2 linked regions of the Homo sapiens genome follow. The protein of the gene in region 1 purifies or fractionates together with the protein of each later gene. This does not show direct contact. Each region holds a gene or a part of one and is shown in the gene's direction. Other genes may lie near its edges.

Region 1 (3,500 bases):
CGGTTGCCTTCCTTTTTAAAGCTCCTATTTCGCTGTAGGTATACACCACATTTTGTTCATGCATTCATCCATTGATGGACACTTGGTTTGCTTCTACCTTTTGACTCTTGTGAATAATGCTGCCGCGAGCATGAGTGTACATATATATCTTTGAGACCCTGCTTTCAGTTTGTTTGGGTATATACCCAGGTATTGGGTCATATGGTCTTGCTCTGTCACCCAGGCTGGAGTGTAGTGGCGGGATCTCGGCTCACTGCAACCTCTGCTTCTCGGATTCAAGCGATTCTCCTTGTCTGAGCCTCCCGAGTAGCTGTGATTACAGGTGCCCGCCACCACACCTGGCTAATTTTTGTATTTTTAGTAGAAACGGGGTTTCACCATGTTGGCCAGGCTGGTCTCGAGTTCCTGACCTCAAGTGATCTGCCTGCCTCAGCCTCCCAGAGTGCTGGGATTACAGGCGTGAGCCACAGCGCCCGGCCTGTACCATTTTGCATTCCCACCAACAGTACCCAGGATTTTGCATGCTTTTTGCCCAGGGTCGATTTAATGTCAGTGCATCCCCGGCACTGCATCCTTGTCTCCTACTTTTCAGCCCTTGTCTGGGTTCCTTGATACCAGGGAGTGCCTAGGTCATTGTGCTCATTCGACAGATGGGAAGATGAGCTCTCCAGAGGGGATGGGACCTGTTCAAGACCCCAGGCCTGATTCTCACAGATCTTTCACTTCACGCTTTGCTTCCTGAGCAACTGATTCGGGCTCTGGCACTCCCCGGAGTGCCTTCATCCCGTGGCCCACGCAGTTCTTCCACTGCTCACCGGGGCTGTGGTTCCTGTCCCCACAGGTCCAACGAGCGCTCCTCCAAGCGGAGCCTTGGAGGGCACGGCCGGCACCATTACCTCCAACGAGTGGAGCTCTCCCACCTCCCCTGAGGGGAGCACCGCCTCTGGGGGCAGTCAGGCACTGGACAAGCCCATCGACAATGACGCAGAGGGCGTGTGGAGCCCGGATATTGAGCAGAGTTTCCAGGAGGCCCTCGCCATCTACCCGCCCTGTGGCAGGCGCAAAATCATCCTGTCGGACGAGGGCAAGATGTATGGTAAGGAGCCCGTCGGGTTCAGCCCTGTACCTGAGGCTGAGGCAAGGGGCCGACACCAGAACCTTGGGGTTCCTGCCGGGCCACAGAAGGGGATGACCACTTGGGGCTTTGTCGGGTGGACACTGCTTTCTTCCCTCCTGGGCTCCCAAGGGATGGGGGCATCTGAGGAGAAGCCTGTGAGGGGGTGTGGAGGGTGGGGCCCCTGGCGGTGAGCAGAGATGGGAGTGGGAATCTTGGAAAAGGCGAATCTGGGTGGGGTAGAACATCCCCCCAGAGCAGGTGGGGAGCACCCCACAAGCTGTACCCCAGCAGGTGCCTGACCAGCAGGCTGCCCACCTTGGCTGTGAAGGATGCTCACTCATCCCCTCTTTCCCTCACTCATTCATGCAACAAACAGATGCCGAGCCTTCTGTGTGCCTGGTGTGGGTTAGACGGGTCTAGTCCCAGCCTGTCATCTGGGGTGAGGGTAATGTGAGCTCACAGATACCTGCTCTGCAAGGCAGCCTGGAGAGTTCCTAGGAGAGGCAGAGTGCTGGAGACCACTCCCCTAGGAAAGGCCCCCCCCAACCCAGCAGAGGGTCACCAGAAACGGCTTGATCTTTGTGAGTGGCTGGGGTTGCAGAACACAGCTGAAACTGTTCAGCGATGCATGGGAAGGACCAAGCAGTTGGCATGGGGCCACGATGACTTTTGGATGGAAGAGGGGGCATCTGGAAAAATGAAGCAGGGGCTGGGCATGGTGGCTCACTCAAGCCTGTGATTCCAGCACTTTGGGAGGCCAAGGTGGGAGGATCACTTGAGGCCAGCAGTTTGAAACCAGCCTGGGCAACAAAGCGAGACACCATCTGGAGTAAAAATAAAAAAAATTACCCAGGTTTGGTGGTGCCAGCCTGCAGTCCCAGCTACTGGGGAGGCTGAGGCAGAAAGATCTCTTGAGGCCAAGAGGTCAAGGCTGCATTGAGCCATGAGTGCACTGTTGCACTCCTGCCTGGGTGCCAGAGTGAGGCCCTGTTTCAAAAAAAAAAAAAAAATGAAGCAAGAATAAAAACTGAATGGCTGTTGGAAGGCCCAGATAAGGCTTCTGTTCCTGTTGGAAAGTCCTCTAGGAATCCTAGCTCAAAACAGTGGTCTTGGGGCAGGAGTGAGAGCCCTGAGTGGGTCTCTAAATGGCTGAAGTCAGTGACAACGGGGCCCCTGCCTGGCTTCCAACAGGATGGCCCCAGACCAGCTGCCCACCCCCACGGGTTTCCATTCATTTCTCCCCCACACCCAACGCTGGTGCCACCCCCACCATTGTTGCTTGGCTCGGCTTCCCCAGGGTCGCCCTTACTTCTGGGTCGGCCCTCTAGACTCTCCCTGCTTTGACCACTTCTTGCTCTGATGGTTGCTTATTTTTTCCTTTTTCTTTTCTCTCTCTCTCTTTTTTTTTTTTTGAGATGGAGTTTCACTCTTGTTGCCCAGGCTAGAGTGCAATGGGCGCAATCTCAGCTCAACGCTACCTCTGCCTCCCGGGTTCAAGCGATTCTCCCACCTCAGCCTGCCGAGTAAGCTTGGATTACAGGCACGTGCCACCACTCCTGGCTAATTTTGTATTTTTAGTAGAGACAGGGTTTTTCCATGTTGGTCAGGCTGGTCTTGAACTCCAGACCTCAGGTGATCCGCCCACCTTGGCCTCCCAAAGTGATGGGATTACAGGTGTGAGCCACCGCACCCAGCTTTTCTTTTCTTTTCTTTTGTTTTTGAGACAGAGTCTTGCTCTGTCGCCCAGGCTGGAGTGCAGTGGAGCAATCTCGGCTCACTGCAGCCTCCGCCCCGTGGGTTAAAGTGATTCTTCTGCTTCACCCTCCCGAGTAGTTGGGTCTACAGGCGTGCGCCACCACGCTCGGCTGATTTTACAGGTGTGAGCCACCATGCCCGGCCTTGCATCTGTATTTCTAAATAAAATACTTGAATGTGTTTGTGGCAGTTAAGATAAAATTTGTCTTTAACAGATCCCAAATAACAGTGGCTTACATAAGGGAAATTTCCTTCTCTCTCCTATAAATGTCTGGAGGGTAGGTAGTCCAGGGAAGGTGTGGCAGCTCTGCTCCATGAAGCTCTCAGGGACCCAGGATGCTTCCGTCTTGTGGCTCATGAGCATGCCTTCCATTGTGAATGTTCCCTTAAGGCCCAAGCAGCTGCTTCAGCTCCAGGAGTTACATTGCAGCTAGCAGACAGGAGAATGGGATGAAGAAGAGTGACCTGGATACATTTAAGGAAGACACTGGGAAACTAACCCCTGAAATATTTACTGGCCAGAACTCCTGTGAAGTCCCTTCCACCTCTACTTGTGAAGTTCTGCTTCTTACTTTTAGCGCCTGGGGAAGCGTCATGGGGGAGACAGCTGTGTGTGGAGCACCTGGGG
Region 2 (3,500 bases), on another chromosome or scaffold:
TCTTCTGGCCCCCACACACTGGCAGACCCGAAGGCAGGGTGCTCAGGAGCTGCAGAGCCTGGCAGGGTTTGCTGGACATGCTCAGGGACGGGCCATGGTGCTGGCTCTGCTTTCTAATCATGGTGTCAGTCCTTCACTTCCCTTGGAAATACCCAGAGATTTTATTTCCTGAAGATAGGACATGATGGGTGCTGTGAGATGGTATTTAAAGTACCTGTCTGCAAGGAAAACTTTAAAATAGGAAGTACTAAGGATAAGGTCCTATGGGATATTGGAATATTTTATAAAGCCACAATAGTTAAAGCACTTAGATGTGGACAGATGAGCAGAGAATAGAGGACTTTGAAACGGGCCAAATAAATATGGAAATTTAGTACAGGCTAGAGGTGTTTCCAATTAACGAGTAAAATGGATTATTCAGTAAAAGCAGTTGGCCCTCTGGAAAATAGTAAAGCCATGTATGTGCCTCACTCTTTATGCCAGTACATATTCCAGATTAAAGATTTCAATGTTACAATTATGAAAGTACTAGAGGAAAATATGGGTGAATTTTTTTTTTTTTTTTTTTTTGCCTATGATTCCAGGATTTTAAAAGTTTTAGATGCCCAGAGTTGTGGAGGTATGGAGAAGTGGACCTTCTCATACTGTTGGTGGGAATACACAATAATATAATTTGACCACGTAACAATTCTAGGCACATGCATGCTGTGACTACTTGCTAGGTGCATGAAGGCTCTTGCCAGGGGTGGTCATGGTTCGGTACCACTACATGGGGGTTTAGAGCAGGGACTGGAGGTTGGCCTTGCCTCCTCCCCTCCCCGCATGAGCTGAGGGTCCTTACCTGACCTTTTTGAGCTGTGACCAGAGTTTTTCCTCATGGGGTGGTTAGAAGGGTTGAATGAGAATGATGCCCATGCAGTGCCTTGGCTGGGGTCTGGGCCCTCTAACACCCACCTCATGGGTGTCACTGTTTTTTGAACAGCAGAACTGGAAAAGCCCAAAGATCCAGCAATAAAGGAGCAAGGCAAATAAAGCTGTTACCCTGCAGGATCAGTCAGCATGAGCCAGATTGTGCTGCAGTAACAAAGATCTCCAACAGCGCAGCGGCTACAGTTGGCACTGCTTATTTCTTGCTTGCACCTGTGGGCCACCGTGGCTGGGGCCTGTCAGACCTGTGCTGACGACAGCCTACCTGGACATATTTCTCCATGCTCACTGAGGCAGGGGAAAGGCCACAGCAGGCCACAAGTAATGTGTGTCACCCCACTTCCATTTCTGTGGCCAAAGGAAGCCACAGAGCCACACCTGAGTTCCATAGGACGGCAGCAGCTGATCATCCTATGGGCTGGGGTGCTCAGTATGGAGAAGTACAAGCAGCCACCCAGCGTGGGGCTGGTTGGTGCTGCTGAGGATGGGAGGATGGGAGGGGCCTGCATCCATCCCAGGGCAACATACCTGTTTGTCTGCTGGGGCTGCCTGACAAAGGACCGCAGGCTAGGGGACTTAAACAACAGACATTTCCTCATGATTCTGGAGCTAGAAGCCTGAGATCAAGGTGTGGGCAGGGTTGGTTTCTCCTGAGGCCTCGCTCCTTGGCCTGCAGATAGCCATCTTCTTGCCGTGTCCCTGTCTGTGTCTGTGTCCTAATCTCTCATAAGCTCACTAGTCTATTGGATCAGGGCCCACCCTCATGACCTCATTTAACCCTGAATTACCTCTTTAAAGACCCTGTCTTCAAATGTAAGTACTAGGGGTTAGGACTTGAACATAAAAATATTGAAGGGACATAGTTCTGCCCACAGCGGTGCCCGCGATAGGCTTCTCTGGTTTTGTCTTTGCTGTTCCTGGCAGCGCTATATTGGGCAGGCTTCTGTGGTCTCCACATGCCTGTGTGCAGAGTCCCCCAGGCCCTGGGTTCTGGGGCCCATACTGAGGAGTGGGGATGGCCAAGCCTTGGCTGTTGAGTAGGCAGTGCCCAGTTGTGCTGTATGGGATGCTGTTTCTCACTTAAGAAATCTTTCCCTACCTGGGGGGTACAAAGGCATTATCCTGTATTCCCAGGTTGTAACTTTCTGCCTTTGACATTCAACCTTGAGTCCACCTGTAAGTGTAACTGCGGCAGAAGGGAGGGGTCTGCTGTCATCCTTGATAGCCTGTGATGAGCAGAGCCCCTCTGCCGACCGCGATGCACATGTAATATGAGCAAGAAATAAATTTTTGATGTGCGAAGCCACTGAGTTTGGGGCTTGTGTTTTCCACAGCATAACCTATTATGTCCTGACCAACAGGGGATCCCATTTCACCTTTTTCCATAGGGCCTACCTCAGCATCAGCTGCTGGCTGCAGCAACTCACAGTCTGGCTGCAGCCACCCGTGAGCCATGCCTGGCCTACCCGCCTGCTCTCTGGTCTGATCTGTCCCTTACTAGTTATTCTAGCTTTTAAGTCTTGCTTATGTCATAGGGAAACCATCCATGTCCCCATTTTTCAAGTTGTCTTTGCAAGTTTTAAAACACATTGGATCACAAATGCAGAGGCAGCGAGGATGGTGTCATGGCCCTTGCCCAGCCCCAGCAGTGTTCACACTCTCCTGGTGCAGGCCTCGGGGGTGCCTTGTCGCTGGACAGCCTGGCCAAGCCTGCTCTCCAGGACAGCAGGGCCCGTTGCTCCCTTAGTTTTTCTTTGGGCTACATCATCTCTATTACAGGGACACGGTGGGTAGGGGCTGGCCAAGGAAGAGCCCAGGCCTGTGGGGTGTTCTCATTGGCCGGCTCCTTTCCTCCTGGCCTCAGGAACCACCCCCAGCACAGGGCTGGGGCCTGTGGATGATGGGTGCTCATGCACTTGCCACATTCTTCTGTGTCCCCATTGGTGGGGCTGCCAGCTGGGTGCACAGGACATCTGACTCCCCTGCCCCCTGCTGTGCCTGCGCTGCCCACCTCACCTCTGTGTCTGAGCACTGCAGGGGACTGGGGAGTGTTTGTGGGTTGTGGAGCCAGGGCTCTTTATTCACAGGCTGTGCATAGGGGGGGCCCTCAGTGAGGGGTCCACCTGCAGCACCCACAGGGCAGAGCGAGTGGGAGGCTGGCCTCTGTCCTCATTCGCATGTCTGTGGATGTGGGCAAGCACATTGCTGGCATGCATATGTAAGCATGTGCACAGCTGACTGCATGCAGCTGGGTGGTCGGGAGTTGATGAGACATACACCTGGCCACACCACCACCTGTGTGTGATAGGGGACCTCCCCTTTCCACCCAAGGTTGCCTCCGCCACAGGAGGAGCCACACAGGCAAGTCCCTGTCAGAAAGTGTCAGCCCCAGCTTGCTTAGGGACCCCTCCTCCAGCTCCGACCAAGTTTCCAGGGCACATCCCCATCCCCGAGGCCAGGGGCACCAGCCCCAGGGGATTGGTCCCCATCCTGCACCCTCTGTGAGTGTTGTCTCTCCCTGATGGGATCGGCAGCTGGCCTACATGAACCAGGCCTCTGAGCAGAGGCTGAAC

Evidence for each region.
Region 2: the proteins of TEAD4 (region 1) and GNB1L purify together in Homo sapiens (affinity purification with mass spectrometry, with the first as the bait; one large-scale study listed by BioGRID). This does not show direct contact.

The regions. Positions count from the first base shown.
Region 1 is NC_000012.12:2,993,897-2,997,396, forward strand, and holds part of TEAD4 (transcriptional enhancer factor TEF-3), read left to right. Parts: intron 1-841; 5' UTR 842-870; coding exon 871-1,096; intron 1,097-3,500. UniProt on the Homo sapiens protein: Transcription factor which plays a key role in the Hippo signaling pathway, a pathway involved in organ size control and tumor suppression by restricting proliferation and promoting apoptosis.
Region 2 is NC_000022.11:19,844,875-19,848,374, reverse strand, and holds part of GNB1L (guanine nucleotide-binding protein subunit beta-like protein 1), read left to right. Parts: exon of another isoform or gene 1-2,229; intron 2,230-3,500. UniProt on the Homo sapiens protein: Acts as a critical regulator of DNA damage response (DDR) signaling via specifically regulating phosphatidylinositol 3-kinase-related protein kinase (PIKK) family proteins.